Linked DNA regions of Homo sapiens: regions 2, 3 and 4 are each linked to region 1. The links come from fine-mapping of genetic effects on gene expression. A gene starts in region 1. Each other region holds a variant in brackets. All regions are shown on one strand. Distances are from middle to middle. Region 1 holds the start of CBX6 (chromobox 6). Region 2 overlaps LOC105373032 (a long non-coding RNA gene). Region 3 holds the start of APOBEC3A (apolipoprotein B mRNA editing enzyme catalytic subunit 3A). Region 4 has its middle 18 kb from the start of DNAL4.

Region 1 (8,102 bases):
AGCCCTAAGTAGAGCCTCTCAGCCAGCGATCCCGAGATCATTTAAGATAATCACTGGTCTTCATGACCTCGACTTAGAAAAGGAAACAGAGGTTCAGAGATGAAGCAATTTGCCTCTGACTCCAAGGTCAGAGTCAGGACACCCTTGTCCAGGCCCAATTCCAAAACTGTGTTTTTTCTATCACCCACCACCTCTGTTAGCTCCACAGAGGGCCCTGGGCCACTCCATGGCTGCCCTTGCTGACACGGAGGAGTGTCGACAATTGGGACACAGTGTCGGGAGGGCAGCCGTTTGCTCAGAAGCCCCTGCTAAACCCCTGCTCTGTGGCAGATCCAGCCCAAGTGGGGACTCCTCCACGGACTCATTCGTGGTGACAGAAAGGAGGAGGTGGGTCCTCCCTGCTCCCCCGCACCAAGTCCTGCTGAGCCACCATGTCCCCAATGCCCCGTACTCTCTCGCCTTTGAGCAGGCTGACCTCCGGCTCCAGCCTGTCTCCTCAGCTGGCCAGCACCTCAGCCACCATACTTCCCTGGATGGGTCTCATTTACTTGTCTGCCCAGTGCCTGGCTCAGAGTGAACTGGTACCAATGCATCCCAAAGCCTGGGCTGGAACCCAACCCGGTCAGACGTGAGTTTGGTGGGGACAGGCCTAGAAGTGGGCCCGACCACTGCCTATTCTCTGTGCCAAGATGGTCTGGGGCAGGATGATGGTGCAGAGGTCGTGGGCAGCCAGGAATACTGCCCCAGGCTCCCAGGCCTGTCCTTCCAGCTGTCCTTCCAGGCATGAAATCTCTTTAAAGCCACAGGGCTCTCAAGAGACCCCAGGTTCCGGTCCAACCCACCCGTTGTCAGATGCCACTAAATGGAGAGAGGCTAAGGGACTCCTAAGGCGATGTAAGCTGTCTGCATGGCCAGTCCTTTCTTTACTAAGGAAGGTACTGAGGCACCAGGCACCAGTTGCTTGGGGTTACAGCTGCACACGCACAGACTCTCCCCTGGAGAGCTGCCCTATCACAGGGAGGACGGTGGGCAGTGGGAATATGAAGTGATTTCGTGCAGCGAAAGAACCACAGAGCCCAGAGAAGCACAGACCCCAGGCTTGGAGAATGAAACATCAAAGCCCGGCCCTGACACCTAAGTAGGAAAAAGTCCTGGTCCTTACTGAGCCCTGACTGCACCCCAGACAGTTCCAGAGGCTGCGGTGGCCTGCTAAGACAGACAGATGGTAGAGGCAGAGAGTCCTCTGGGCAAGATCCCAGTGGTGTGAGAAGATGGCGAGGAGTCACAGGACTGAAAGCAAGGGCTGGGGACAGAGGCTGGGGTGTGTGTGGGGTGCCACAAGGGGCGTGGGTTTTAGAGATCCTACTGGGGCAGGGAGGCTTGTTAGGTGATGGCTGCCCTCAATCTAGGTGGGAGATGGTTGGGACCGAGAAGAAGGCCATGTCCCCACGGTTGGTCTGTGAGGTCCATGAGGGTGGGATCTGTTGTGAGGTCTCTCTACCTCCCACTCCCCACAGCATTGGATGCTTAACTAGTACCTGGAGGTAGCCCATATGCCTCTCAGACAAGACTAGATTACCATTTGATCACAACTCTCAGGAGAGATGTTTGCTGGCTTATTTGTTGGCTAAGCAAGGATGTCTTCATTTAGAACGTGGCGTTCACCCCCATGGGAGAAGGGACTGTGACTCCACGTGGTCCTCCCAGCCCAGGCTGGGGCCTCCTGGGGCTGCTTGGTTAACAGTCCCTTCCGCCACTAGGTGGCAGCACATGAAGCCGGGCCTGCCCATGCCAATGCTGCCAGCCCAGCTCCCAGGGATTGGGCCCCTCAGACCCCTTCCCACACAAAGGCAGGGAAAAGCCCAGGCTTTTTTGGCGTGGTAAGCAGACATTCTGCAGGTGCATCCCCACACTTTCTGACTCTCAGAAAGTGTTTACTCCCTCTGCAAACTGCCTGAGCTTCCTGACTTCTGAAATTATGCTTCCAAGAGTCCAGTGGTGACGGACTGTTCCTGGGGGAGGGGCAGAGTGTGGGCAAATGGCAGGCCCGGAAAGAAACCCTGGCTCAGTGAGTCTCCTTTCCTTATCTGCTGAACCATCACAGGGCCTACTACGGGCACTCCTATGATGATCAGAGAGTACATGGCACCTGCTCAGCACAGTGCCTGGCACGCAGCAAATAACTGAACAGACCTACCCATGGGTGGTGGACTTATAAGCAGTGATCTTTTTCCAATGTATGCTTGGCATACATTGACATTTCTTACTTTATACTTTCTATATATTATTATTTTTTAAAGGGTTTACCCTTCCTCTTCCTCCCCACATGGAGAACTCTTTGAAAGTGGGACCTGGGTCTGCCTGATGAATTAAAAATAACTGTAGCCAACATGCTTATTGCACCCTGACCAGGTGACAGGCATAGCTCTGTGGGCTTGGCAAGCACCGTAGATGGTGTGAAGGTTTAAGCACCTGAACTCTACCATGGCCTCTCCCCATGTCTGTGGGCAAGTTACTGGACACCTCTGGCCCTGTTTCCCCATGCGTGAAACAGGGAGGATGGAAGCTATCTCATGGGCTCCTGTTTGCTTCAGAGTAGTTCCTGGCAGAAAGCGCTGAGTGTAATTTGCTGACTCTGCCATACTGCCTCTCAGGGAGCCCCAGAACAATGTGTTCAGCCCAAGCTAATCTCCATAGCCCCTCACAAACATCCACATCACTCTCAGGCTACCTGTTTCTTAGGGTCCAGATAAAAAAGTCCTACTATCTGTGTCTCTATCCCCTGCCACGCCAACTCTGCAGCCTTCATAGTTTCCTGTGTGTGTCTGCCTTCCCCCTTTAACCTGACATGGACTACTCAAGGCACAAGATGAAGAAAAGGAGACAGGATGAAGCCAGGAAGCTGGACCTCGGGTAAGTCACTTTCCCTTCCTGGGCCTTGATTTTTTATCTGTGAAATGGGGATAATACTCCTTACTTCTTGGAACTGTTGAAAGAATTAAAGGAGATAATCCATGTGGGGGCTCAGCCCTGTATTAGGCCCACAGCCAGCTCAGGAACCAAAAGAACTATCAAGAAAAAAAGGCGTTCTGTGTATCAATGCTCATGGTCATACTCGCTTCGCCGCTAGAGGGTGCCCCAGCTGCACTGAGAGGCTGTCACACAGCCCACCAGCCTTCCAGCTGCTCCGCCCATCCCTCCCCAAGAGAAGCATCAGGGTTAAGGTTACTCCCTGGATCCCCTAGGATGTGCGTCGCTTGAGGGTGGGGGTTATAAAAATATGAAATTCTGGAAACCAACATTTCTTTCACTTCTGCTTCTCTTCTCCGAAAAAGAGTCCTCCCACAAAGTCACCGGCTGTCGGGTGGGAGGGGGCCCTGAGGCATCCGTAGCACTACAGGAAGACAGGGGGCCCACTGAGTCCCACCTGCAGCCGTGCCTGCCACCTAGGGCCATCTTGCCCTTCCTTTCCCAGACTCTGTTTTTCCTTGTCAAAATAAAATAAAAACCCAAATCCTCCAAGATGGCTTCCTCTGGAAGTTCTTCCCTCCCTAGCAGAGACTAATATGCTATGCTCTCACTCCCACATCCCCATCCCCCAGAAATGGCCGGGAGTGGGGGGAAACTGAGGCTCAGAGCCCTAAAGTTAGTGGCCCAGCCTGGGTGATAAATTCAAAGTAAAATGATTTGAGGTCAAATTCAAGTTGGATCCCCAAGAAAGGAGGGGAGCCATGAAGAACAAATCCTGAAAGACTGAACGGGGGAAGCTGGGGGCAGGGAGGCAGGTGGTCCCCCAAATCCTCTCCTTGTGCCCTGCCAGGAGGTGGGACCCCACTCACTCTCCCCCTGGGTTCCAACTCCCAGCACAGTCATAACAGCTCAAACAAATGCCCCCTTCCCATGGGCATCCCCCACCTGCCTCAGCCACCCCCTTTCCTGGAGCCCTAAAGGCATCCCCAGCCCCTGGTTTCAACAGGGAGGATTATCCCCAGTCCCAAAACCCTCTTGTTGAAGCTGATGCTGGCTGAGGCCTGCCATCAGGGGCTTCTGGGGGGGCTCACAACCACCCCCTGCCCAGCTGGGGCCCCTCTGAAAAGGCCGGCCCGCTTGGGCGGCCGCGTATCTGTCCCTCCCTTCCAGGCCCCGTGCTGTGCCGGGGCTGGGGGCCCGAGAGGGGGATGCTGCTGGGGCTGGGCCAGGTTACCTTCAGGAGGAAAGTTTTGGGTTTGGGTCCCCTCTTCTTGGGCCCATACAGCTCACGCTCCCTCTCCCTGCGGCCGAAAAACACCAGAGGTTAAAAAGAGCCCCTTCCCGGGCCCCACTCCGCGCTGCCCTCCCCGGCTCTCCCGCTTCCCCGCGCGGCGCCCCAGCCGAGCCTCGGCCTCGCAGCCCCTGCCAGCTTCCCCAACAACTCACTTTTGTTCGAAGGCTGCAATGAGCCGCGAGTCCAGGATGTTCTCCTCGGGCTCCCAAGTGCTGTACCTGCCGAGTCACAAACGCACAAAATCAGGATGAAGACCAGAGAGGGACAGGCACGCGGCGAGAGCAAGAGCGCGCACCCCCACCCCAGGCCCCGGTGCCCGCTGCCTCCCCTCCCGCGACGCCCCCGGACCCCGCGACACTCACTTGATCGCCCACCCCTTCCATTTCACCAGGTACTCGATGCGTCCCTGAAAAACAGAGGGGAGAAAAACGGGGGTGGGGGTGGGGAGGATGCGGGGACGCGAGGAGGCGGCGGCGCGGGGCTGGGCGAGGGAGCCGGGCTAGCGGGACCGCTTCGCCCCGAGGGCCCCCGGCCCCGGCCCCGGCTGCGGACAGCGGCGGCCCGCCCCGGGCGGCGGCTCACCTTTCGGATCCGCCGTTTGATGATGGATTCGGCCGCGAAGACCCGCTCGCCCACTGCAGACAGCTCCATCTTGCTCAGCGGCACCCACAGCCCATAATACTCCCTGCGCCCGCGGCCGGTGCGGCACCGCTCGCGCACGCGCCGCAGCGCCCAGGCCCCGGCGGGCGGGAGCGCGGCGGGGCGCGCGCTCGCGTTCCAGCTGCGGGCCGTCACGTGATCCTCGCGGCTGGCGCGCGGTTGCCAGGACCTCCCCCTCCCCCGGGGCGGTTGCTAGGGAAAGTCGGCGCTCGCGGGGCGGGGGCGCGCGCTGGCTCTTAAAGGGGCCGCGCGGGCGGAGGGAGCAATTGCCGGCCGACCCGATGGGTGCCCGGCTTGTGGGCACGCTGCGGCCTTACGCTTATCACCCCCCCTCACATCTTGCCGGCGCCCGATCGCTGACACCCTCTCCTTGCCTCTTAATCCCCACGCGAGTCTCGCCAGGCCCCGGGCGGAGAAGGGCTGTGGAGCCCGAGTCTCGCCGCCACCGCGCATCTCCCGCAGCAGCCTGCAAACAGTTAAATATGATGCAGCAGAAATGCAGTTGCTGTTGCCTTGCCAGGCCTTGCGGGAATTTCTTTAAAACATCGCCCCCCACCCATTATTTATGTATTCGTGGGAGGGTGGTTTTGTAACCAGTTCAGAAGAGTTAAAACAAAAACGCCACCGCAGGAAGGGGGTGTGCGGCGAATGGGGCCGAGGAAGGCCGGAGTGACCGTGGGCATCTGTCTGCGGCCGGGGTCTCGGGCGGCACCTGTCCTCGCCCAGGAGACCGGGGAGGATTCGGCGGGGCCGGTGTGGCAGTGGGGGAGGGAGAGGGACCGCGGGCAGGAACGGGCTCCCCGCACTCCGCCTTGGGCCCACAGCGGGTCATCATCTGGTCATTCGGCAGAAACCGCCTTCGCGGTCATATCTGTGTTTTCCGATTCCCAGCACCCCTCCCGGCCCCCCGACCTGGCCGCGTCCCTCTCCCCGCCCGCAGCTGCGCGAAGCTTCCGCCATTGCTCTGGGGAGCCCAGATCCCAGCTTCCCACTTGAGGAGGGGCGGGGGATCGAGCTGGGGCTGTCCAGGAACGGACACACAAAAAATAGCCCTGCCGCGCAAAACGCTCCACTTTTTAAATGTTGAAATTACTTGAACTTTATTTCCCATTATGTTAGTAGTCTTGTTCTTTGTAAAACAATTTTAAAAATACAGATAAAACAACTGTCCATAACCCCCATAAAACCATTGTTAACATCTTCACCAATCTTCCAGCCTCTGCTCTATGCGTACATAAACTCACGTACACCTATGTATGTATGTATATACATACACATACACATTGTCTGTAGATTTAATTTTTTAACAAAATGGGATCACGCTATTCACACTGTTCTGGAATCTGCTTTTCTCCCTTAATGCTATAAAGTGGACATCTTTCAGTGTCATTAAATACAGATTTCACCATCCTTCCAGTGACCACCTTGGGGCTGAGATGGGGTGGGGAGGAATGGGGATTGTGAAGAGTCAGGGTTGTGTCTTGCGAACATCAATGGCTCATTAGGAAAGATTTTTGCGTTTCTGTGCTACAATGCCAATTCTTGGGTTTCAAATCCACCATAGCAAAATGTTAGTCTTTTTCTCCCAGCAGATTTGTCCAATTATTACCTTGAGAGAAATCCCTCTCCTCACTTAAAATCAGTATGTTCCAGGGAAACAGCTATTTGCTGGCCAGCCCAAGGTGAGCTGCTGTGGTAAAAATAGAAATGTCCTCCTGGGAGATGTGGGTGGTGGTGGGTGAGCAGGTGAGAGGAGTGGGTATGACAGTGTGTGTGTGTTCAGGCTGACGGAGACAGGCGGGGGATGAAGCAGGTGAGTCCACTTGTTGATTCATTCAGCAGTGTTTGTGAGCCCTTGTGAAGCACCAGGCTTTGTGTGAAACCATCAGGAAACAAAGGTGCCCCAGGCTGAGGAGCTGTCAGTGGAGTGAGAACGGCACCTGTCACACAGTGTGACTAATGCTAGAATAAAGGTGTAGGAGTTTCGTGTTGCTGCTCTCACAAATTAACACAAGCTCAGTGGCTTAAAATGACTCACATTTGTTATCTGATGACTCTGGAGGCGGGAAGTCCCAAATCAGTGTTACTGGGCCCAAGTGAAGGTATCCTCAGGGCTGGTCCCTTTTTGGAGGGTCAAGGAGAGTATCTGTTCCGTGCCTCATCCAGCTTCCAAATGTTGCTGGCATTTCTTGGCTCATGGCTTCATCACTCAAATCTCTGTTTCCACGATCCCTTTGCTCACTTCCTGCTTCTTTCTTTCTTTTGTTTTTGTTTTTGAGATGGAGTCTTGCTCAGTCACCCAGGTGGGAGTGCAGTGGCACAATCTCGGCTCACTGCAACCTCTGCCTCCCGGTTTCAAACAATTCTCCCAGTCTCAGCCTCCCAAGTAGCTGGGATTACAGGCATGCGTCACCACACCCGGCTAATTTTTGTATTTAGTAGAGATGGGGGTTTCACCATGTTAGCCAGGCTGGTCTCGAACTCCTGACCTCAAGTAATCCACCCGCCTCAGCCTCCCAAAGTACTGGGATTACAGGCGTGAGCCACCGCACCTGGCTTCTGCCTCTTTCTTTTAACAACACTTGTGATTACATTGGGTCTGCCCAAATAATTGAGAATGATCTTTCCGTCTCAACCTCAACTTAATCAGATTTGCAAAGACCCTCTTACCATAGGGTAACATGGATGGTAAGTAAGGTATCCTATCCACAGGTTCTGGGGGCTAGGGGCTAGGACACGGACATCTTTCGGGGAGGCATTATAAGCCTGCCACAAGAGTCTGTACAGGATGTCTTGGGAGTGGACATAGGGGAGCAACCTACCACGTGGAGGTGAGGCTGTGAGGGCTTCTCAGAGGTGGAGACCTCTGATTTGGGGCCGGAAAGACAAATGGGAATTGGCCTACAAGTGAAGAATGGGAAGGGTGTCCCGGGTGGAGGTGTCAACTTGAACAAGCACATCAGAGCCTGAGAGTGTGTTTTGGGGATGGGAAAGAAGTCTGCTATGGCATGGGTTGGGGCAGTACGGCAAAGGATGGCAATGGAAAGATGGGTTGGACTGAACTTGGGAAGGGCCTTGAATGCTGGGTAGGTTTGGACTTTGTCTCAGGCAGTGGGAAGCGTGAGGGAGTTTTGAGTAGAGGAGGGATGTGATGAGATGAAGTGGGAATTCGGGCAGC
Region 2 (8,102 bases), 53 kb after region 1:
TCCCAATCAAGATTCAGCCTCATAGAAGTGAGCCTCCTGAGTGAGACTCTGTGGCTCCTAAGTGGGGAATCTAGGGCTCGAACCCAGGTCTTGCTGATCCCATGTTTTTCTCACCATCACTGGATACTTCCTTCTTATGCAAGGAGAGAAATGCAAATTCTACAAAAGAAAAATGGGCTTGTGGTCTAGACAAGCATCTTGGTTAATGTCTGAGGGTCATGTTAAAAGCTTAGAAAGTTAGTTTTGTCTGCTGGGCATGGTGGCTCATGCCTGTAATCCCACTACCTTGGGAGGCCGAGGCGGGCGGATCACCTGAGGTCAAGAGTTCGAGACCAGTCTGGCCAACATGGTGAAACCCTGGCTCTACTAAAAATACAAAATTAGGTGGGCATGGTGTCATGTGCTTGTAATCCCAGCTACTCAGGAGGCTGAGGCAAGAGAATCGCTTGAACCCAGGAGGCAGAGGTTGCAGTGAGCTGAGATTGCACCATTGCACTCCAGCCTGGGCAAAAAGAGCGAAATTCAAAAAAAAAAAATTGGTTTTGTGATGGCAGCTGTTGCTAATCAGGGTATGGAGTCAGGAGCTTAGGTCTAGGGTTGAGCTCAGATCTCGACATGGACCAGGCTTTTCCCCTGTCTCAGTGCCTCATTTATGGTTCAGTTTCAGGCAGCAAAACTAATGAATGATTTCCAACCACAGAAGCCGTCACTGGGAGAGCCAATAAAGATACGACAGATCTGGCAGGAGAACAAGATCCAGCCCAGGTGATGGGGTGTGAGGCTTGGTCTTAGCTACAGGTAGGTCGTTTCCCTTAGCTCCTGGATGACTCAGCTTGGCAGCCACCCAGACTTCTATCAGGACCCAGAGGTGCTGCCAGCTCTGGAGCCATGTCAGGCCAGCTTTCTCCCCATGTCACCAGGGAATGGAGATTTTTCTGGTCTGCTGGGGCTTTTCCTAATTCTGCACGGTCGGCTTGAGACTGTCCACCTGTTGCTCCATCTAGGCTGCGTTGCCCTTATGAGCCGTCTTCACAAGGTACGTTTGGAGGATGTCAGGATGTCTTTCAAAGGATTTGTAGACATGCTTTAAAGTACTTACGGAGTCAATGTCCCCTTTGCTTCAAGCTTCTCTCCTACTGTAGGAAATAATGTCTACGGTGGCCCATTTCCAAGGCAAAGTGCCTCAAATAGGCTTGGGCCCACAACCTGCGGATGGACAGGATATACTAGACCCCTGCTGGTCAGGGCCCCCTTAGTTACCCCCACCCAAAGCAAAGCGTTTAGTCTAGAATGAAAGTTTACTAGCCTGAAAAATAGCTCACTTTATCTATTCTTATCAGCTTGCCTGGCCACCTGGGTCATAAGTCAAATACTTGAAGAGCACCTTAGCTGACTATGATTGCAGTGCATTATGGGCCACAACAAACTGCAGCGAGACAACCCTAAAGTAAACACCTAAAAGCCCCAACCCAACGACCAATAGGTGATGTCTGGGAAGATGGTGACCCCATGGTACTCAGCCTATGAGGAACCGGGGGAGGGACTTGCCTACTAGGGGATACATTGCTTGTTGTAACTGTACTGGGTGTGCCTGCCTACCAGACACCAGATCTTGCAAGACTGTCATTAAAAGTCTCACTTCTGGCTGGGCGCAGTGGCTCATGCCTGTAATCCCAGACTTTGGGAGGCCAAGGCAGGCAGATCCCCTGAAGTCGGGAGTTCAAGACCAGCCTGACTAACATGGAGAAACCCCCATCTCTACTAAAAAAAAACAAAAACAAAGAAAAAACCTACAAAATTAGCTGGGCATGGTGGTGCATGCCTGTAATCCCAGCTACTCGGGAGGCTAAGGCAGGAGAATCACTTGAACCCAGGAGGCGGAGGTTGCGGTGAGCCGAGATGGAACCATTGCACTCCAGCCTGAGTGACAAGAGTGAAACTCTGTCACAAAACAAAACAAAAACAAAACAACAACAACAACACAAGTCTCACCTCTGCAATTCTCTATGTCTCTAAGTTCATCCTTTGGGTTTGGACAGGTGAGCATGTTTCTCATATTACCCACACTGGTGGGCCCCGTAGGCTTCCTGGTTGGTCCAGGAGTGGATGCCTGATGCAGGCTGCACAAATCAGATTCTCTCTTCTGGAGATTTAGAATCGAGAACCAGTGGTTATCATAGGTTAGCCTTGGCTGTCAGACCTGGAAGGTGAGGAGACCCAGAGCTGAGGGTGCCCTTTTGGGACAGGTGTCAAATCCTTGTACAAACAGAGAAACCAGACTGACAAGGGGGTAGGATGAAGGAGCTGAAGGAGAAGCAGAGCCACAGAGGACCGGGCAGAGAGAGGGGCTGCCTTGGTGGGGACAGCCTGTAGACAGCGCCAACGACGTGGGGCTGGTGCTGTCCCCACTGTGGTCTCAAACACCAGACTAGTGCCCGGTCAGCACAGAGTTCAGGACAGTGGTGCAGCTGACACCCAGAAAGACACCGCAGTGGAAAGCCTGGCCTGACGCTCCCAGCTCTCTCCCTGCCATGCACTGACTCCATGTCCTGTGAGGAGGAGGTGGGAGGAGAGTTTTATTAGGGGAATTCATTTGTAATAATTGCCTAAGTATTTGCTACTTAGGAGAACATGGATCTGCAAAGGGTCCATGACCCTTTGAGTCAGAGTTTCACTCTTGTTGCCCAGGCTGGAGTGCAATGGCGTGATCTCGGCTCACTGCAACCTCCGCCTCCCAGGTTCAAGTGATTCTCATGCCTCAGCCTCCCAAGTAGCTGGGACTACAGGGGCACACCACCATGCAAGGCTAATTTTTGTATTTTAGTAGAGACGGGGTTTCACCATGTCGGCCAGGCTGGTCTCAAATTCCTGACCTCAAGTGATCCGCCTGTCTCGGCCTCCCAAAGTGCTGGGATTACAGGCATGAGCCACCACAGCTGGCCTGCAAGGGGTATTTTTAGGTGTTAGAAGCATCTCGAGGCATCCTTTCTCAACGTTTCACACCACAGACCACTGAATGGGCATTTGGCACATTCATAGATCATCAATTGTAATTCAAAAAAAAGTAGAGTTTCATCAATGATTTTAAATTTAAAGAGAGTGTTTGAAACATTAATTATGTTCTCATATCCATGAGATCTTCATTTCTTTCTTCCTCTCTCTCCCTCCCTTCCTCCTTCCTCTCCTCCCTCCTCCTTTCTTCCCTCCCTCCCTTCTCTCCTTCCCTTCCTCTCCTCCCTCCTCCTTTCTTCCCTCCCTCCCTTCTCTCCTTCCCTTCCTCTGCTCCCTCCTCCTTTCTTCCCTCCCTCCTTTCTCTCCTTCCCTTCCTCTGCTCCCTCCTCCTTTCTTCCCTCACTCCCTTCTCTCCTTTTTGCTGCTGCTTTGCTGTTTGCTGCCATCAGGGCAGGGGTGGAGCAGTAAGTGGGTTCCACCCCCAGCCACACCGTGATTGGCTCAGGAGTGGACACGTGCCCTGAGCCAGTCTAATCCATGCTAACCTCAGGACCTTCCTGGGAATTGTGGGAGACAGAGACTCTCTGTTGGTCCAGATAGGTGGGGCGTACTGTGGGCTTGGCGCTGCTGTAACAATTTTTCTACCACAGGAGACGCTGGTCTGAAAAGAAGGCAACGCAAGGAAGAGAACAGAGCCAAGGCACCTGCAGCGAGCCAGAGCCAGAGCCCTGACATCACAAATGCTTTAATTGGTTCCATTTATTGTTTAATCCACTTGAAATTGAATTTCTGTCATCCCCGACTGGAAGTGTACTGACCTGCATACTACCTGTGTTTCCTCACAGCAGGCTGAAAAGCTGTGCCAATATTGAGCTCATCCAGAATTAGACGAAGTTTGTATTCTTTTTATTACTTCCTTTAACCCTGAATCAGGGTCCAGAAGCATTTTGTTGACCATTAACTCTTCTCTGTGAATAAAGCAGCATGAGGAACAACCTCTTTTATTCACAGAGCAAAGCTCTTCGCTGCTCAGCCACAGCGGCTTCAACTCTGGCACGGGTCCTGAAGTGCCATTTCTAGCACATGACTCACAAAGTAAATAATCTGTAAATGAAAAGCCTCTTATCATACTTTGGCACGAAAAACAAAGCGACAAGCCAGGCAGCATTTTTCCCTCATATTTGAACCCCACATGCACCAAGGGCTGTTTTATGCCTTGCACATGAGGAGTTTGGTTTGCTCAAAAGCAAAGTATTGGCTAACATGTGTGTGCACTAGTAATTGCATTTCTGCTTTGTGTGCTCTGTTATCTGATAGAGGAGCTTTGTCAATATCCTTTGGATCTCTCTCCAAGCACAGTCTTCATTATGATCTGTGAGCTGATTTACGGTCTTCTTGGCAATTTTACGACTGATATCTAGGTGCATTTGCTAAGAGGACAGCAATTTAGAATGATGTTTCTGTAGCTTTAGTCTCCTCCGCACCTTTAATAAGAAGAATAATCAATTTTACATTAGAAAGTTATTTTGTGCTTATTCTGGAAAAATGGAATTGGTTGCTTTTTCTAAAGATAATGAGAAACACTTTTTATGGCTCCAGACTACTATATATCAGCATTTTCATTTTAACAGTAATATATCGAGGACTAGGGGCAAATGGATTGCTTGTCCAATAAATGAAATGTTCAAGTATTCCTCACTGAACTTAGACTCACAATTTTCATTTATGGTTGCATGTGTAAAATCACCACTCAAGAACTTGTTTGTCCTTGAATATATAGTTTTGTATTTCCATAGTTATATTGCAGAACCATTTACTCATTATGTTTACAGTGCCCTTCTGAGGATTTAT[G/A]CTGCCATTTTCATCATTACTTTGCATTTTATAGAACCTCTTTTTAGTCATTGATCCATTTTGGTGAATTGGAGATACAGTGTGACATATCTACTACAATAACCATGAAAATTAAAAAATAACAGACATAAACTATAACTTGCAAGCGAGAAGCCCTATGTGAATATGATTTATTAATACTTTGTTTTAAGTCTCTTTCCCCTGGTTCTCACCTATTGAAGCTTTTTGCTTTTCTGTCAGCCAAGAGGTGCCAGGTAGGTAAGGAGCATACTGGGTAACTGTGTACTCCGTGCCCAGGCCTACTCATGCCTCTGTGGGCTGGGCACTGATGCAAACTTCTGCCAGGCATGGCCCTCTTAAGTGGACAGGGGATAGAAAAATAACCTAGAAATGATGACAAATGTGGCTTCTTTCCAATGATCACATCTCTTCCCTTTTCCTTGGCTTACTTATTGGTTCAGACCTTCACAAAGAAGTTGACCAAGTGCAGTGACAGGATGATGTGCTGGTCATCATCCTGTCGCTACACTGAAACATCCCTTTCTCCCTTTTTGGGCCCATGGTGGAGTCAGGCTTTCCCGCATCATTGAGGTTAGGTGTGAACACGTGATTTGCTTTGGCCAATGAAATGGGAGTGAAAGTGACACATCCCTGCCAGGTACAAGCTTTAACGGCCAGGGAACAACGTGCGTCATCACTGCCTTGACCCTGTGGTCAATGTTCCAGACAGGGGTCTGTGTCAGCCTGTGTCCCTTAGTGAGGACTGGGTATAGACTGCCCCTCTCCACTTCATGGATATTTAACTTAAGCAAGAAAAAGGCTTCATGAACTTAGGCCACTGAGATCATGGAGGTTTGTTCCTGTAGCATAACCCAGCCTCTTCTGTCCAAAACAAGTGGGTACACAAATCCAAAAAGGACAGAAATCCCTTTGCCCAGTTCCCTTCCTGAGAGCTGACACTGACTGGCACCCAGCCTCAGCCCCAAGCCCAGGGCCCTCGTTTATAGACACTCATCTGTGTCCAAGTTTTGTTCTTCTAGTTGCCATTCTTCCATTTTCTCTTTGCCAGTAACACACAAAAAATGAGAGATTTTCTCAGTATTGGTATGGATTTTCAATTAACAACAACAAAAACAACAAAATACTCCCAATATAATAATTCTTTTTTTTTTTTTTTGAAACAGGTTTTCGCTCTGGTCACCCAGGCTGGAGTGCAGTGGTGTGAACTCAGCTCACTGCAACCTCTGCCTCCCAGATTCAAGTGATTCTCCTGCCTCAGCCTCCCAAGTAGCTGGGATTACAGATGTGTACCACCACACCTGGCTAATTTTTGTATTTTTAGTAGAGACGGCGTTTCGCCATGTTGGCCAGGCTGGTCTCGAACTCCTGACCTCAGGCGATCTACCTGCCTCGGCCTTCCAAAGCGCTGGGATTACAGGTGTGAGCCACTGCGCCCAGCCTCCCAATAGGAGTGTTTAAAAACACTCATTTTTAAAAACGAGGCCGGGCGTGGTGGCTCACACCTGTAATCCCAGCACTTTGGGAGGCTGAGACGGGCGGATCACCCGAGGTCAGGAGTTCAAGATCAGTCTGGCCAACATGGCGAAACTCTGTCTCTACTAAAAATACAAAAATGAGCCGGGCGTGGTGGCAGGTGCCTGTAATCCCAGCTACTCAGGAGGCTGAGTCAGGAGAATCGCTTGAACCCAGGAGGCAGACGTTGCAGTGAGCCGTGATCACACCACTGCACTCCACTGTGGGCGACAGAGTGAGACTCTGTCTCAAAAATAAATAAATAAATAGAAACTAGAGTGTTGGGTCTAAGGGCGACAGTGGTAATTAAAACACAAAGATCAACGCACTGTTCAAAGATTCCCAGTGCGCGGCGCTGCTAGAGTCGCTGAGTCCTCACAACCCCGGCTCGTGGCGCGAGCCTGGTGCCACCCGGGCGGTGGTGGGAGTGTCGCGGCCCGGGGTGGGTGGGATTCAGGCTGCCGGGGGCGGGGGGGGGGGTTGCCGCAGAGGGGGCTGGGGAGGGCGGCACCCCCCCATTGCCCGTCCTGGGCCCTGCGTCCCCTGGCGGGCTGCGGCCAGAGCAGATGGCAGCACCGGCGCTGGAGGTGGCAGATCCCCGGGGAATGAGCAGCGGGATAGATCACTGGCTGCAGGGCAGGGGGCGCTGTGAGTCGCCCTGGCCGAGCTGTCGGAGAGGAGATTACTTAGCAGCTGGTAGTGAAAGGAGACGCCTGGGCAGATTGGAGCAGAACGGAGACTCAAAGCCGGGACTGGGGTGCCTGTTCTCACAGTCACTGACCCCCACCTGTTCGAAGACTGGCAAGATTCTGTGAATATGGGGGAGGAAGAGCCAATGATTCCCAGCAGAAGACGCAAGATTCTCCAGTGTCATAAACTGGATAGTATATGCAGAGTATGTGGAAAATGCTAGCTGGGTTGTTCCCCAAGCAATGCAAACACCATCGTCCCTTCCCTCCAAACCATGCCTTGTTTGTACCAAGGACTGCACAGAACTTGGAGTGTCACCGAGTGACAGAAAAAGGACCCAACACGGCGCAACCGCTCAGCCCGAGAGGCGGGTGTATTGTCGTCAACCAACATCTGAATGACGCTTGCAAACTGAATTTGCCGTGCAGGGTTTCCAACAGCAGGCATGTTTTCCAGATGCTTTGAAATCCTCTTTTAAAAAAGTGAATAAGAGGCCAGGCGCAGTGGCTCACACCTGTAATCCCAGCACTTTGGGAGGCCGAGGCGGGCAGATCACGAGGTCAGGAGTTCGAGACCTGTTTGACCAACATGGTGAAACCCTGTCTCTACTAAAAACACAAAAATTAGCCAGGTGTAGTGGCCCGCGCCTGTAATTCCAGCTACTCAAGGGGCTGAGGTAGAAGAATTGCTTGAACCTGGGAGGCAGAGGTTGCAGTGAGCCGAGATCATACCACTGCACTCCAGCCTGTGTGACAGAGTGAGATTCTGTCTCAAAATAAAATAAAATAAAAAAGTATACAAGGCTGGCTGAAGTGGCTCATGCCTGTAATCCCAGCCCATTGGGAGGCCGAGATGGGTGGATCACCTGAGGTCAGGAGTTCGAGACCAGCCTGGCCAACATGAGGAAACCCTGTCGCTACTGAAAATACAAACGATTAGCCAGGTGTGGTCGTGGCACCTGTAATTCCAGCTACTTGGGAGGCTGAGGCAGGAGAATTGCTTGAACCCAGGAGGGAGAGGTTGCAGTGAGCTGAGATCGTGCCACTGCACTCCAGCCTGGGCAACAAGAGCTAAAC
Region 3 (8,102 bases), 82 kb after region 1:
GCTTTGAAGCTACACTTCTAAAATAAAATGTTAAGAATCTTCCATAATTTGTTAGGTAATTGTACCATGAATTGCAAGTGTGTAAATAAACACTAGGAAATGAATAAATGTCATTCCTTTTGGAGTGGACCTTCATGTGGGGCAAAAGTCACACTAACTCCTTCTGGGATGAGAAAACACAGCTAACCCTTCCGGGACAAGCACCTGAATTCAAACTCTGACCTCACTCACAGAGCTCCCCACTGCTGGCCAGCCCTGGCCGGAACGGACAGGCCAGGCAATAAGAGGAGAGCCAGCGGGGAGTCTCCCTGTTGGAAAGGAGCCACACGTGTAGTCAGGGGGCCTTGGGAGCAGCCCTGTTCCCACCCCTTCCGGATTCCACCCACTAGAGAGGGAGCCCAGGTGGGAAGGGTTCCACATGGAGGATGGACTCTGCCCCTGGACAGCAGCCCCCACTTCCCAACCTCAGCCATGGTGGGCACTGGTGCTCTCTTGCCTTTCCATCTGCAGAGCCTGAAGCCCCTGGGTCCAGCCTCCCGGCCCTGGTCACCCTGGACGACAGGATTGTCCAGAAAGGGCAGCCTTCCCCAGGTCTCCCCTTGGCAAACTTCTGCTCACATATCTGGGGCCAAACTGTGCCACAACGTTGACAGTGACTATATGGGCCTGGGGGAAAATAATTATTTAGTGGAGGGGATTAGAAGCAGCAGTGAGAGGGGATGGCGCAGGAGGGCAGGAAGAAGTCTGGCAGCCGTTTAGGCCCGAAGGGAAGAGCTAGTAGACTCAGATCCATGGAGAGATGGAAGGAAAGGAGAAGAGAGGAGGGAGGAGAGGGGCAGGGCAGGGCTGCAGGCAACTGCGGGAGGACAGGAGGCAGTGGACACGAAGGAGCCAGGAGGACAGGGGCGTGGGAACAGAGGGAGCTGGAGGGAGGTCTGTGGCTGTGGGGACCAGCAGAGCTGCCTGAGGGGCTGAGTAGGGTTCGGTCATTACATACAACAAGATCCAGGCCTGCGACCACGCTCAGGATCCAGGCTCTGCCCCCACATCTGCTCCTGCAGACGCAGCTCTCCTGCTGGTCACCTGGTGGCCCCCAGAGGGATGGCTGGCCATCTCCAGGCACTGGGCCTCATCCCAGGGAGGAAGAAAGAGGTCGTGGCTAAGCTGTGAGTGAGCCCCAGGGGACAGGGGGCCTGGGCCCTTGGAAGGTGGGGTTCTGGGGGACGGTGGTCCGGTCTCCCTGAGACCCGCCCTGTGACATGACTAACTGTGGGGTTCTTTCACCAGGGTGAGCCCCTCTTGCCTCCCTTACACTGGCCCCTTTGCCCAGAATGACTGCACAATTTTTATCACTTACTTCCAATGAGTGGAGTCAGGGCTGTTATCAAACCCAGAGACACAAGCAAAGGGCAGGGCGTCACGTGGGGGTGGTGAAGGCTTCTCTGGGGACCCTTCAAGCCTGGCTGCCATGAGGTGCCAGGGCAGGAAGCACACTGTCCTTCCTTAAGCTCCCACAGTGTGCCCAGCCCTTGATGGAAGTCTCAATTTAATTATAAATGCAGGCTTGAGGTTGCCAGTATCAATCATCTACCCAACTAATCTATAAACGAGTGCAATCACATTTAAAATGTTGATAGGGCTTTACTGGAACCTGACAAGCTGGTCATTGCATTCAGAGGACTTGGATCCACTCATTTGATTTTGAAAACTACGAGAGATAAAGAGAGTTAAGGTAGAAAATGTCAATACATGGCTGGGCATGGTGGCTCATGCCTGTAATCCCAGCACTTTGGGAGGCTGAGGCAGGCAGATCACCTGAGGTCAGGAGTTCAAGACCAGCCTGGTCAACATGGTGAAACCCTGTCTCTACTAAAAATACAAAAATTAGCTGGGTGTGGTGGTGCACGCCTGTAGTTCCCAGCTACTCAGGAGGCTGAGGCAGGAGAATCGTTTGAACCCGAGAGGCAGAGGTTGCAGTGAGCTGAGATCACATGACTGTACTCCAGCCTGGGTGACAGAACAAGACTCTTGTCTCAAAAAAAGAAAAGAAAAGTCCATACTATTTTAAAGCTATAACAATTGGAAGAGTGAGCTGTACAAAGTCTCAATACAGTTATAAAGCTATAACATTCAGAAGGGTGTGTGTAGGAGGGTGGACGGGTGCTCAGAAGGAAGCTCTAAAGCCACAAGGAGAAATTTCACCCCCTTTGGACTGGACATGGGCTGGGCTCTGGCAAATTGCACAATGCAAGGTGCTGACATTATTGCCCACTAGGTCACATTGCCTAAGAGTAGCAATTTATAAAATCTCATTAGAGAGTGCCTGTGTAAATTCTTTATTTCTGGGCCACCCGTGTACTTCCTCATTAGTAAGGAGGAGAATTAGGTGAAGCTCATGGTTGTGGATTGCTGCAGTTTGCACAGACTTTACAAAAAGAGCTTCAGCTGGTGTCCTGCCCCTCTAGGGCACTCACTGGGGCTTTCACGCTGGCATTGGAAAAGTGGGCATCGGCAAGTTCCGTGGCTGAAGAGGAAAAAGAAAAGCAAGCTTTCACCCGCCCTGGGTGAACTGTGAATTCTAAAGTGTGTCCCCAGGAATATTGGGAGACCTCAGCAGTTTACACTTGGTGGGTTGAACAGGGTTTGTTAGTATGAATTATTCATCCAATATTGAACACCTACCTGTGCACAGCACGCTTGCCTAGTGAAGAGAGCAGGGCTGCTGTTCCTGCTCTGTGCCCGGGTGGGAGGCAGACACAGGGGCTGTCATGGGAGAAGCTGGGCTCAAACAGCCCATGAAAAGGGACCCATGCACAGGCACAAAAGCCCCGAGGAAGAAGCCAGCTTGGTGCACTCGACGGAGCATCACCCACTTGGCTCAACAAATGTGTGGTGGTATGTGCATGTGTGTGTGTGTGTGCATGTGTGTCTCACACATGCGTATTTATCTACATATGCAAGAGGATAGGAAGAAATACAGGAAAACACTTTTGTAATCTTGTGGTTGAGAAAGCTGGCATAAACAAGGCACACAATGCCAGACACTATGGCCTTCAGGCCTCCCTGCCACGGGGATGCTGCCTTTTCTGCTCCGGGTGTTTCCACGAGGCAGGCATGGAATCTTCCCTGGACAAGCGACATACCGTGGAGAGACAGGTAAGAATTTCTACACATAGGAAGGGTGGAGCAGCCATGGTCTTAGATGTGAGCCCAAGGGAAGACAGCCTGATATATTTTACTGGGCCATATTTGAAATTTCTGCACAGCGGAAGACACCATACAGTAAACACAGGAGCCTGCGAGAGAACCTCTGCCGAGCACCAGTGAACGGCCAAGTGACACGAGTGACACCATGAGCTTGGTGCCCTCTCCATCCCAAGCCAGAGGCGGAAGCCAGGCCCTTCCTCCCAGCCCAGACTCCTACATCCCAAACTTGAGCCATGGCACACATGCTGGGCACTTACTCTGTGCATAGCAGAGGGAGCTGAGCTGCATCCAGAAACAGACCTAGGAGCTCACAGACCCAAGGCCTGGGTCTCCACCCCTGGAAGAGGGTGGTGCCGAGAGCAGGGCCCCCGGCTGTCACTGGCCCGGAGCTCACCGTGCAGGGGCAGCCCAGGCCCTCCGGGGATGGCACTGGGGTGTCGGAGGCCAAGGAGCAGAAACAGCTGTGGATGCTTCCCTCGGAGGACTGGGTGGGGCCGGGACCACCAGGACCTGCCCACCACCTTCTCTATGGGGCATCTGGCTGTGTCTGGGAGTATCTTGTGGAAGGGTCCTTTTTACCATGTGGGATCGGTGGTCCAGACTTGTCTGGGAGCCAAGGATACCAGGCATGTCAAGTAGGCTCTTCCAGAAGGTTTTCCCTCCTGGGATGTCTGTGTCTCTGCCCCTCTCCTGCTGCCTGCATCAGGAAGGGAGGGAGCAGATGGGCTGGTGAAGTGAGCAATGTCAGTCACATGCATGGACTGTCCAGGGCTCATTCTGTGCTGAGGGTCCTCCCGTGAATACGTGGCTCACCAGCGTCCCACCCCATAGAGAAGGTGGGGGGCTGGCCCTGGCAGCCAGGGCTGGAGTGGGAGGAGGTTGACCAGGAGCATGGGGGTGAGGGAGAAAGAGAGAGGGACCCCACTGTGCTGCCCTAGCACAAGGGACACTGGTCTTCCTGATTCCTGGCCTTCCACGAGGTGGGACGCCCCTCCTTCTCTGGGCTCCTTCTCTGCCCCGCGGGGTGGTGGATGCAGTAGGGACCTTCCACCTCAGGACCTCAGGAGCCGCATATGTGGTACACAGTGGGCCTCCTCGACAGCTGCTCATGAGCAAACAGGCCCAACTCCTTCTGGTGGCAAAGACACAGACACACACAGACACATAAGCACACACAGACAGTGACAGGACAGAAAGGAACCTTCCCCGGGGTTTCCCAGACACACCCAGATGTCTACCTCAGCTCTGCCCCAAGTCAGAGGATTGCAGCAATTCTTACCGTGAAGAGTGCTGGGGAAACCACGTCATCAACCCC[G/A]ATCCTCTCGTTTTCATTTCTGGGTTCTGACAACAGCCCCAGCTCCACCCCTTGAAACAAGTGACCGAAAAATGGACAACATGTAGTCACTCTGGGCAAAGAGGCCACCCCAGTGGGGGTATGGGGGACAGAGGGCCCCACCCTGGGAGGACAGCACTGTCCCCTGTCCAAGGGCAGGTGCAGCCACCTCCTCCACCTCCCTATTCCCCCCACCCTTTGTCCCCCCCGCCCCCCCGAGCTTGGCCCCTTTGCTTGGAGAGATCCTTTGGTTTTTTCGATCACTTGCTTCTAGGCTGAGGAGGGCGGGGCTGTTGTCAGAGCCCAGAATCAAAGCCAGAGGAGCAGGTGGACGCTGAGACTGTCCCCTCACCCTGCTCCACGGGCAATGTTGAAGTGGGCATCTGGGTGTGTCTGGGGTATCCCAAGGAAGGGTCCTTTTCGTCATGTCACTCTGTTGGGGGCGGGGCACAGGAGCAGGGAGCCCTTTCTCTCCCGAGCTCCTCAGACTCCCAGCTTCCCTGGGTCTCATCTCAGAGCTTTGCCTATGACCTGGGAGCCCTGTGGGTCCAGGGGAGGGGACTGGACGCAGCCCCATGACAATGCTCAGACCTGGGCTAGGAACTGGAAGCCTGTGGTTCCTCTGGGCTGTAGGGGTTGGGGCCCCACAGTGATGGCAGAGCCAGGACCTCATACACAGCAGCATGGACTCCAGACCCGAGCGGGACCTCCGTTCTGGTCCCAGGGTGACCTGGGCTGAGTGGCCCAGCAATCAGGGACCACTTCAGGGTCCCTCTGCACTGGTCTGTCCCTCTCACCCAGTCTGGACCCCTGTGGGGCACTTGCCCTGTCCCCAGTTTTCCTTACAGGGGACCTGGGCAAAGCCCAGGGAAGCTTGCACCTGTTAAGGAGGCCATTCTCCTGCCTCCCCCTTGGGGATCCAGTTTCTTTCTCTCGCCTTGGACCTTCCCCAGGATCCTATGGAAACTCCAGCAAGACCTGGTATTTTATCACATTTTCACAGTTATCGCATTGATTGTTCAGCCAACATTCCAGGGACAGAAATGGGGGAGGGGCTGTCCTTCCCCAGGAAAGGGTGGAATCTCCTTCCGTCTTCCTTACAGTTGGCCTAGGGAAGGTGCACACTCTTAACCACCCCTGGGTTCCCCTGATGCCTTGAAGACCCTGCCTTGCCCTGGCTGCAGGGGGACCAGGAAGGGGCCAGTTGTGTCTGGGACATTCCTGCCGGGAGAGAGTCAGGCCCTAGTGCACAGAAGGATGTGGGTGTGGTCGGTGGGGGCACTGGCAGGGGGTAGGGCACATAAGTCCCTGGGGAGCTCACTCAGAGGTTCCAGGTTGTGGCCCTTATGGAAGTTCCTGGGTCCAGGGGCTAGAGTGAGACTGTTCCCCGCTCATGTCTGGGCTGCAGACGCCCAACCAGTGGCTCCCCCTGTCCACCCTTGGCAAGGGAGGGTCCTGGCCTCCCTCTCTGCTAGTGGGGACCCCCCAACACCCTGTCTTCTCTCCTCTCTGGAGCTCTGCCTGGGTGCATGGCTTGTACAGTGAGTTACTGAGAATTGAACTCTGGACAGTAGCTGGGCCCCACTTTGCTTTAAACATTTTAGTCTGAGGCCTTCTTTGTCATCAGATGAGAAGGTTCACAGATGTGCAGATGTGCTGATAGTCTAACCTGACTGGTTTGTAAAACTAGAAAGAGAAACAGACAATGTGCCTGTTTCTGTGATGGGCCATAAAGTGGATCTTACAGATTTGGAGACATTCTGGAAGATCTGGACCTGTCTGGATCAGAGAGGGGAGGCAGGCATGGGCCAGTCATGAATCCAGTGGGGCTTGGGCCAGCTGGGGCAGCAGGGAGGAGGACGTGCCCAGGGTGGGTGAGCTGGGGAGACCCTGGAACCCAAGGCTGAGGACCCAGAGCCAGGAGATGCAGGAGACGCCCCAGGGATGCTGAACAAAGCGCTGTCCCCTGTTGCAGCTCTCCTGGGTCTCCCCATAGAAAGCTCATGTGGGGGCTGTCCTGACCATGGGTCCAGGGGTGTATTTGCTCCAGGGGCATTTGATGCATTATTGAGCCAGGGGAAAGGCCATCACACTCTGGGCAGCAGGAGCCACCGGGAAGGGTTGGGGAAGGGTTGGATCCTCCCAAAGTTGGTACAAGTGTGGTCTCTGGCCCAGGTGGGCTGTGGGTACTGCGGGGCGTCCAGCTGTGCATGCCTCTGGTGTGAACTGGGAAGGGTGGCCTCTGGTCAGACTCACACAACACACCAAGATGAGCTCACACCAGAACCACCTGAGACTCAAATGGCAGTTGACTGCCCCCAGGGGACATCTTCTTGACTAGAAGAGTCCAACATCTGGAGACAGAATGGGAGGGGTCCTCACGGCAGAGAACAGGGCCTCTTCTAGTCTGTGGCGCCCACCAAAATGGCAGGGACACTGTGCTGAGGTGGGAGGATTGCTGGCCAAAGACAGGGGGGTCTAGTAAGAGCCAGAACAGGGGAGCAGGCAGGACAGGGGACAGCCCCTGGGCCCACAGGGCCAGCACCTTCCAGGGGCAGCTGTGCTGGGTGTAGCAGGTGGACCTGGGAAAGGACGGCGCCAGACCTGCCGCCAGGACTCAGGGGCTCACTTGGGGCAGGAGCACAGTGTCCCTCACATTTCTGCAGGGCCCAGAGGTGGGAGAAAGGGCACAGGGTGGCCCTTCTGACAGGGGGGTGGGGGTGTGTCCCTGCTGGGGACTCTGTTTCCTGGGAGGGCCTGGATCTCTAGGTACCTTTCAGAGCCTTTAGCATCTCCTCTGGGTAATGGGGATGAAAACACTCCTCCCTCTAGTTTACAATTATTAGATACACTGATGCATAGGAGGATGCAGGACCTGCTGGTCTCCCATCTTCACAGCCAGGGAAGAAGATGCAGGACCCTAACAGAGAGCACAGGATGCAGCAGGTGCCAGGGAGCCTGGACCAGGCACATCCTGCACTGGCCACAGGGGAGGACACAGGGGTGGCTGTCCTGGAGCCTGCTCTCTGGACCGCTGAGTGTTATTCAGGGTCTTTCTCCAGGGTGTGGACACCTGTCTTCTCACCTGCCCCCTGGTCTCCTGCCTTCCAGATTCCTGTGGCCCACAGGGAGCAAAGTGTGGCCAGCTCTACATCCCCATTGTCACTCCACAGTGTCTGGTGGTTCAGTGGTCAGAGTGGGCACATCAAAACCAAAGCTTGCCCAGAGGCATGGCAGAGAACTTCCTTGTTCTGACGCTAATGAGGGTGGCACACTCGGCCTGAGCTGGAGAAGGGGTGGGGCAGGGTATCGCTGACTCAGCAGCTTCCAGGTTGCTCTGATGATATATTAAGGCTCCTGAATCCTAAGAGAATGTTGGTGAAGATCTTAACACCACGCCTTGAGCAAGTCGCAAGAGCGGGAGGACACAGACCAGGAACCGAGAAGGGACAAGCACATGGAAGCCAGCCCAGCATCCGGGCCCAGGTATGGGAAGCCCCTCCGAGCACCTCTGCGCCTCAGCCTCCTCTTTGAGCTTTTCTGATGAGCACTCACCTCTCAC
Region 4 (8,102 bases), 59 kb before region 1:
TCTGCTTGTCCTATAAGTTACTGAGAGAAGTGTGTTAAAATATTCCATTTAGTCAACTCTTGTTTTGCACTTGTTAAATTTTCCTTTTGGTTCTGCCAATTTTTTGTTTTGTTTTGGTTTGGTTTTTTTTTGAGACTGAGTTTCGCTCTGTCCAGCCCAGGCTGGAGTGTAGTGGCATGATCTTGGCTCATTGCAACCTCTGCCTCCCAGGGTGAAACGACTCCCATGCCTCAGCCTCCCAAATAGCTGGGATTACAGGCACCTGCCACAATGCTCAGCTAATTTTTGTGTTTTTAGTTGAGACGGGGTTTTGCCATGTTAGTCAGCCTGGTCTCGAACTCCTGACCTCAGATGATTCATCTGCCTTGCCTCCCAAAGTTCTGGGATTACAGGTGTGAGCCACCGCGCCCAGACTTGGTTCTGCCAATTTTTACTTTATATGTTATGAAGCTATGTTCATATGTGCATACAAATTTAAAACCATCATACCGTCCTAAGAGATTGATTCTTTACCATCATGAAATGTCCTTTTTATTTTTAGCAATGCTTCTTGCCCTTAAGTCTACTTTAATATAGCTATACCAACTTCCTTTGAAGTAATGTTTGCATGCTATATATTTTCTATCCTTTTAATTTCAATCTTTCTATGTAGTTTTTTTTAAACCCAGATTGACACTATTTGGAATACGTATCTTTTTATATTTAGTGCAATTACTAATTTACATTAAAATTGTTTAAATCAGCCCACTTACTATTTATTTTCTATTTGTCCTTTCCTTTGGGAGTCCCTTTTTTCTCCCCTTTTTGGGCCTTTTTTGAATTATTTTTATATTCTTGGTAGCTTGTTAGTTACATACTCTTTTGCAATCCTTTAATGATTACTGTAGGAAAATATAACATTGATCCTGGACGTATTAGAGTTTAATATAAAATTAATACTTTTGCTACTTCCAGGACAATGTAAGGACATTAGAATATTTTAATTGCATTCACCTCTTCCCAATTTTTGTTTTTATTGTCATGAATCGTAAAACTCACAAGACGTACTTGCTTTTATTTTCAATCAACATTAAGTAAGATTTATCCACATATGTACCCTTTCTGTTGTTCTTCACTGGAATCACCACGCTTCCTTCAGGGATCATTTTCCTGCTCCCTAAAGCACTTCCTTTTGTGAAGTTCTGTTGACGACAAAAAACACCAGTGATAAGTCCTCTTAGTTCTTTCTTTGTCTGAAAATATCGTTATTTCATCTCCATTTCTGAAGGATGTTTTCACTGTCTCTAGAGTTCCAGGGTGGCAGTAATTTCCTTTCTGCACTTTGCAGATATTGGTTTATTGTCTTCCTTTCTCCATTCCTTCTGTTGAAAAGTTAGCTTTCAGTCTTGCTACTGCTCCTTGAAAGGTAATGCATCTTTTTCCTTTGGATGCTTTTAAGATTTTTCTCTTTGTGTTTGATTTACAAATGTTTCACTATTTACAACTGTTTCACTATTAGGGGCCTAGTTGTAGTTTTCTTTTCATGCTTGGGGTTCCCTGAGATTCTTGAATCTGTGGCTTAATGTCTTTCAACAGATTTGGGAAAATTCTTAGATGGTCTCTATTAAAACATTATTTCCGGCCAGGTGTGGTGGCAGGAGTTCAAGACCAGCCTGACCAATATGGTGAAACCCCATCTCTACTAAAAATACAAAAATTAGCCAGGTGTGGTGGCAGGTGCCTGTAATCTCAGCTACTTGGGAGGCTGAGGCAGGAGAATCACTTGAACCTGGGGGGCAGAGGTTGCAGTGAGCCAAGATCATGCCACTGCACTCCAGCCTGGGTGACAGAGTGAGACTCTGTCTCAAAACAAAACAAAACAAAAAAACCATTATTTCCGCCCTAATTGTGCTGTTTACTTCTTCTGGGTCTCCTTACATGTTAGATCTTTTCACTATGTCCCATATTAATCTTTATACCCTTTTCTGCACTTTTCATTCTTTTCTCTCAGTCTTTATTCTGGGTAATTTCTTTTGGTCTTTCTAATAGAGTTCACTTCAGCTGTATCTAATCTGCTGTTAAATCTATTTATTGAGTTCATAAGTTCGTTTAATGTATTTTTCAGTTCTATCATTTCCATTTGATTCTTTTTTACAGTTTACAATCCTCTGTTGAAATTCTTCCATTTGTCATCTAAAGTCCTGAATAGGCTTCCCTGTATTCCCAGCACTTTGGGAGGACAAGGCAGGAGGATCCTTTGAGCCCAGAAGTTCAAGACCAGCCTAAGCAACATGGTGAAACCCCATCTTTACAAAAAATACAAAAATTAGCCAGGTGCAGTGTTGCACACCTGCAGTCCCAGCTACTCAGGTGGCTGAAGTGGGATGATCCCTTGAGCCTGGGAGCTGGAGGTTGCAGTGAGCCGAGATGGAGCCACTCCAGCCTTGGGGGAAGAGTGAGACACTGTCTCAAAAAAAAGCCCTGAATATATTAATGATAATTATTTTCAAGTCTATGTCTCATAACACCACTATCTGGATAACAGGCCCATCATGGCCTGTTTTAAATGAAACATTTTATTTCAAAATAATTGTAGACTCACTCAGTTGTAAGAAATAACACAGAGAGAGCCCATGTACCCTTTACCCAGCTTCCCTTAATGGTAACATCCTATGAGAGTATAGTACAACATCACAACCAGGATATTAACATTGATACTGTCTTATTTAGGTTTCCCTAGTTTTACTTGTGGTCGTGTGTGTCTGTATATGTGTGTGTGTGTAATGTGTGTGTGTTTGTGTATGTTTGTGTGTATGTGTGTGCATGTGTGTGTATGTGTTTGTATGTGTGTATGTGCATGTGTGTGTGTTTGTGTGTGAGTGTTTGTATGTGTGTATGTTTGTGCATGTGTGGGTATGTGTATGTGCATATGTGCATGAGCATGTGTATATATGTGTGTAATGTGTGTGTATGTGTATGTGTGTGCGTGTGTGTGCATGTGTGTATATATGTGTGTATTTGTGTATATTTGTGGGTATATATGTATGTGTGTGTATGTGTGTGTGTGAGATTTAATTGTAGGCAATTTTATCACATGTGTAGGTCTAGTGGCCTTAAAAAAATTTTTTTCCCCCGTCTGGATTTTCAGTCATTCTGTTTCATTTCCAGATATGTCGGGTAATTTTTTTTTTATTGAATGCCAAACTTTGTGTAACAAAAATATAATGTGAGAGTTTGGATGGCGTTGTTCTCTTCCTCCAGAGAATTTACTTGGCTTCTGGCAAGCTGTTGGTGAAGAGGCAGACACCTTAATTCAATCAATGAATGGGATGCTTGGAAACTGCCATTCTGTGTGTGGGAGGGCTGGACTTTTTCCCTACTCAGAGTGTGTAACCCACTAAAAGCCTGGGTCATTTACCAGAGCTCCTCATCCTAAACTTCAGTTTTTAGCTGGAAGCTCTAGTTCTCATTGTCGTGTAATTTCTTGAAGATATTAACTGGCTGCTCAACTTAGCGATTTGTTGTTAGTGGATAGGGGCCATAAGAGGAAGGCTGCTGCCCCAGAATCCAGGCTCACCTCTCTGAACTTCTCTTCTTCCTGGGATCTTTGTCCCTCAACTCTGACTTGTCTTGATACCTCTCCAATGCCTTCCTTGGATGCCTTCTTTTATTTTTTTTGAGATGGATTCTCACTCTGTTGCCCAGGCTGGAGTGCAATGGCATGACCTCGGCTCACTGCAGCCTCCATTTCCCGGGTTCAAGTGATTCTCCTGCCTCAGCCTCCCGAGTAACTGGGATTACAGGCACGCACCATCATGCCCAGCTAATTTTTGTATTTTTAGTAGAGACAGGGTTTCACCATGTTGGTTAGGCTGGTCTTGAACTCCTGGCCTCAAGTGATCTGCCTGCCTTGGCCTCCCAAAGTGCTGGGATTACAGGTGTGAGCCACTGTACCTGCCTTTTCCTTGGATGTCTTAAATATGTTCTGTCTTTCTAGGTTTTCTCAGTGGGAAAGCTGGTCTGCAACAGAAATCTGCACCAGCCTTTGTTTCTCACACGAATATTTTGACATCCTTGAGGGACTAAGGGGAACCCCTTAATTACAGACCATATTGTGCAGCATTTGGGTGCTTGTTCAGGAGTCAGACTGGATTAAATTCTAGTGTTGCAGCTGGGCGTGACGGCTCACACTTGTAATCCCAGCACTTTGGGAGGCCGAGGTGGGTGGATCACCTGAGGTCAGGAGTTCAAGACCAGCCTGGCCAACATGGTGAAACCCCATCTCTACTAAAAATACAAAAATTAGCTGGGCGTGGTGGTGGGCACCTGTAATCCAGGCTACTTGGGAGGCTGAGGCAGGAGAATTGCTTGAACCTGGGAGGTGGAGGTTGGAGGCTGCAGTGAGCCGAGATCACTGCACTCCAGCCTGGGCAATGGGCAACAAGAGTGAAACTCTGTCTCAAAATAAATAAATAAATAAAAATAAAAATCTAGTGTTGTCACTTCCCAGCCATGTGATCTTGGGGAAGTCTCCCTCTCTGGGCCTCAGTTTTCTTATGGAAC[T/C]TGCCTCCTTGGATTAAATAAACTAATATATGTCAAGTACTCAGAGAACTGAGTTCCTGTCATATAAAAGCACTCAATATATACCAGTTATTAGTATTCAGCAAATCAGTGTTAAACACCTACTCTGTGCCAGGGCACTGGATCTATATGGTGGTGAAAAAGACAAATACAGTCCCTTCCCTCGTAGAGCTGACAGTTTATTCAGGAGGACACTCTGGTGACTTATCATAGGAAGTTAGTAAAATACCATTGTCAAAGAGAGACTCATACTGTGGTGAGAATGAAAAAGGATGATAGAGCAGGGTACCCTGGCAGGTTTGGTTCCAGGTTGAGCAGGGAGGGCTTGGTTCCCAGGTCTGCGGTAATAGAGGGTATGTGGCAAATGACAGAGAGCGACCAGGCAGCTACTTATGGCCAGGTGGTCAGCAAACACATCTGTGATTGCTGCATGACAGCTGAGACTTGGATGATCAAAAGGAGCAAGTCCACTGAGACCTGGGGAAGGAACATTCCAGGTTGAGAGAATGACACATGCAGGTTATCTGAATCTGGCACGTTTGAGGGGCAGCAAGAAGGCCAGTGTGTCCTGGAGTGGAATGAGCAGAGGGGAGAGAGTGACCACATAAAATCCAGGAGGTGGGCAGGGACAGGATCCCAGAGGGCTTTGAGAGTCACCACGAGGGCGTGGATTTTAGTTTAAGCGAACTGGGAAGCTTTGGAGAGTCTTGTCTTGTCTTGTCTTTTCCTTTTCTCTTTTCTTTTTTCTTTTCTTTTCTTTTCTATTTTTTTTCTTTCTTTTCTCTTCTCTTCTCTTCTCTTCTCTTCTCTTCTCTTCTCTTCTCTTTTCTTTTCAACAGAGTCTTGGCTATGTTGCCCAGGCTGGACTGCAATCTCCGCCTCCTGGGTTCAAGCAATTCTCCTGCTTCAGCCTACTGAGTAGCTGGGCTTACAGGCACCTGCCACCATGCCCAGCTAATTTTTGTATTTTTAATAGAGACGGGGTTTCACTGTGTTGGCCAGGCTGGTCTCAAACTCCTGACCTCAGGTGATCCACCTGCCTTGGCCTTCCAAAGTGCTGGGATTACAGGCGTGAGCCACCATGCCCGGGCTGCTTTGGAGTTTTACAGAGGGGAGTGACAATATTTTGATTGCAACATGATCATTGTAGGTGTCATAAGGAGAACTAATTCTTTTTTTAAGAGTCCCACTCTGTGACTCAGGCTGGAGTATAGTGGAACAATCAGGGCTCACTGTAGCCTCTATCTCCCAGACTCAAGTGATCCTCCCGCCTCAGCCTCCAGAGTAGCTAGAACTACAGGTGTGCACCACCACGCCCAGCTAATTAAAAAAAAAAAAAAATTTTGTGGAGACAGGATCTCATTCTGTTGCCTAGGCTGGTCTTGAATTCCTCGGCTCAAGCAATCCTCCTGCCCGACCTCCCAAAGTGTTGGGATTACAGGGGTGAGTTACTATTGCACCCGGCCAGAGAATGGATTTTAAGAGAGGAAACTGCATTTTTAAGAGACAATGGTGGCTTGGAACAGAGTGGTAGCAGAGTGGAAAGGAGTGAACGTGGGTTGAGATATGGGTTAGTAGTTGAGTCAATGGGCGATGGATTGAATAGATGGGCAATAGAAAGAGAGAAGTCAATGAGCAACCGGAATTGAGCCTATTTATTTGAGCCTATTTATTGAGAAGGGGGTGAGTGGGGTAGGGAGAGGAAGATCAAGTGCTTAGTTTTGGATACCTACATTTTGAGACTCCTATTGGGTAACCTGGATATGCAAATGTGGAGTTCAGGGAAAAATCTAGGAGGGAGTCAAAGCCATGGGCTTGGATGAGATTTCCTAGGGAGAGCATCTAGGTAGAAAGAATAAAGAGACCCAGAACTGCGCCCTGGGGTAGTGCAGCATTTAGGGACCAGGGAGATGAGGAGGCACCAGAAGGAGTCCTAGTAGGAACCGCCAGTGAAATAGAGCAGTAGTTCTCAAAGTGTGGTCCCAGGACCAGCAGCCATAGCATCATCTGGCGCTTGTTAGAGAAGCAGACGATTGGGCCCCACCCCAGATCTACTGCCTCAGAACCTCCAGGGTGGAGCCCAGAGGTCAGCGACCAGTGCTTTAACTCGCTCCAGGCGATTGTAATGCAGGCTACAATTTGAGAACCACTGAGGTGAAAGACAAACCAGGAGAGGGTGTGTTTTGGAAGGCAAGAGGATACATTTTTCAAGAAGGAAGGAGTATGTTAGATGCAGCTGAGAGTGTGGCTAAGACAATGGCAGAGGCCTGGCCATTGGATTTTGTAACGTGGACGTTATTGTTGGCCTGGACAGGTAAGACTTCGGTGGAGTGGGGGTGTGGGGGGAACAGCAGCCTCATGGGAACTGGACAAGATGTGAATGAAAGTGGGATGAAGTGGCATCAAAACTGTAGACCTGGCTGACTGTGGTGGCTCACGCCTGTAATCCCAGTACTTTGGGAGGCCAAGGCAGGAGGATTATTTTGAGCTCAGGAGTTTGAGACCAGCCTGGCCAACATGGCGAAACCCCGTCTCTACTAAAAATATAAAAATTAGCCGGGTGTGGTGGCACATGCCTGTAATCCCAGCTCCTCGGGAGACTGAGGCAGGAGAATCGCTTGAACCCGGGAGGCAGAGGTTGCAGTGGGCCAAGATGGTGCCACTGCACTCCAGTCTGGGTGACAAAGTGAGACTCCATCTCAAAAACAAAAACAAAACACCCAAAACCCCCAAAAAACTGTAGACCCACTGTCTAGCAAAGGGTTAACTCAGCAGGCTTGGGCTGATGGAACCCTGTGCATTCCAAAGAAAGGACTGGGCCTGGAGCAGCTCCCCAGCAGGTAACTTCTAAACCCTTGGAAGGTCCTGCCTGATGAGACTATCTTTGTTTACCTTGGGCCATGCCAGATAATTTATGCTGACAAAGTCTTTTATGCCAAATGCCCTTGGTCACACTGTATCAGTTTGACCTCTGGAGAGGGTCCTGAGACTGAGTAGTTAAGGTCAGTCATACGGGTGCTCCATTACATAACCATCCCCCAGTATAGACCCTGGACACCAAGACTGGGGTGAGCTTCCCTGATGGACAAGTCTCTTGTGTGTGTGTCACACATCATTGCTGAGAGAATGAAGTGCTCTCCGTAGGACTTTGGGAAAGAACAACTGGAATCCTGCTCCTGGTCTGTCCTGGATTCCACCCTATATGCCTTTCTCCTTGGCTAATTTGCATCTGTATCTTTTCAATGTAATAAACCGTAACCATGAGTTTAGCAGCTTTTCTGAGTTCTGTGAGTCTTTCCAGTGAATCATCAAACCTGTGGGTGGTCTTGGGGACCCCTGATACTCCTGATTTTTCAAGAGGTTTTGCAGTGAAAGGAGAAAAGGAATGAGTGACAGCTGCAGGAGGTATTGGCCCAAGATGGGGATTCTGTGTAAGAGAGGAGATACTGGGGCAGACGTGGAGGCCCATTGAAATGACAAAGTAGATAAGGATAGGTTGGTAATGCAGGAGAAATGTTATTGAGAAGATAAAGTGGAAGGGG

What was found. PIP is the estimated chance that this variant, and not a neighbour inherited with it, causes the effect.
Region 2: its variant is fine-mapped to the expression of CBX6 in whole blood (TOPMed, PIP 0.96).
Region 3: its variant is fine-mapped to the expression of CBX6 in whole blood (TOPMed, PIP above 0.99).
Region 4: its variant is fine-mapped to the expression of CBX6 in T cells (GENCORD, PIP 0.95).

What each region holds. Positions count from the first base shown.
Region 1 is chr22:38,867,276-38,875,377 of GRCh38, forward strand. CBX6 (chromobox 6) reads right to left here and starts at 4,941. Exons shown (of 5, transcript NM_014292.5): 1 at 4,847-4,941; 2 at 4,627-4,670; 3 at 4,417-4,482; 4 at 4,205-4,271. The coding sequence starts at 4,915. RefSeq lists silencers at 4,563-4,612, 4,713-4,862, 4,893-5,152 and enhancers at 5,147-5,697, 5,698-6,247, 6,084-7,283, 7,100-7,279.
Region 2 is chr22:38,920,515-38,928,616 of GRCh38, forward strand. LOC105373032 (a long non-coding RNA gene) reads left to right here. Exons shown (of 3, transcript XR_938256.2): 2 at 662-1,036; 3 at 3,603-5,945. Among named protein-coding and RNA genes, the nearest start is that of APOBEC3A, 33 kb to the right of the region's middle. The variant G/A (reference allele first, on the strand shown) is at 4,804.
Region 3 is chr22:38,949,695-38,957,796 of GRCh38, forward strand. APOBEC3A (apolipoprotein B mRNA editing enzyme catalytic subunit 3A) reads left to right here and starts at 7,915. Exons shown (of 5, transcript NM_145699.4): 1 at 7,915-8,026. The coding sequence starts at 7,998. RefSeq lists enhancers at 1-761, 4,628-5,507. The variant G/A (reference allele first, on the strand shown) is at 4,523.
Region 4 is chr22:38,808,562-38,816,663 of GRCh38, forward strand. No RefSeq gene overlaps it. Among named protein-coding and RNA genes, the nearest start is that of DNAL4, 18 kb to the left of the region's middle. The variant T/C (reference allele first, on the strand shown) is at 4,543.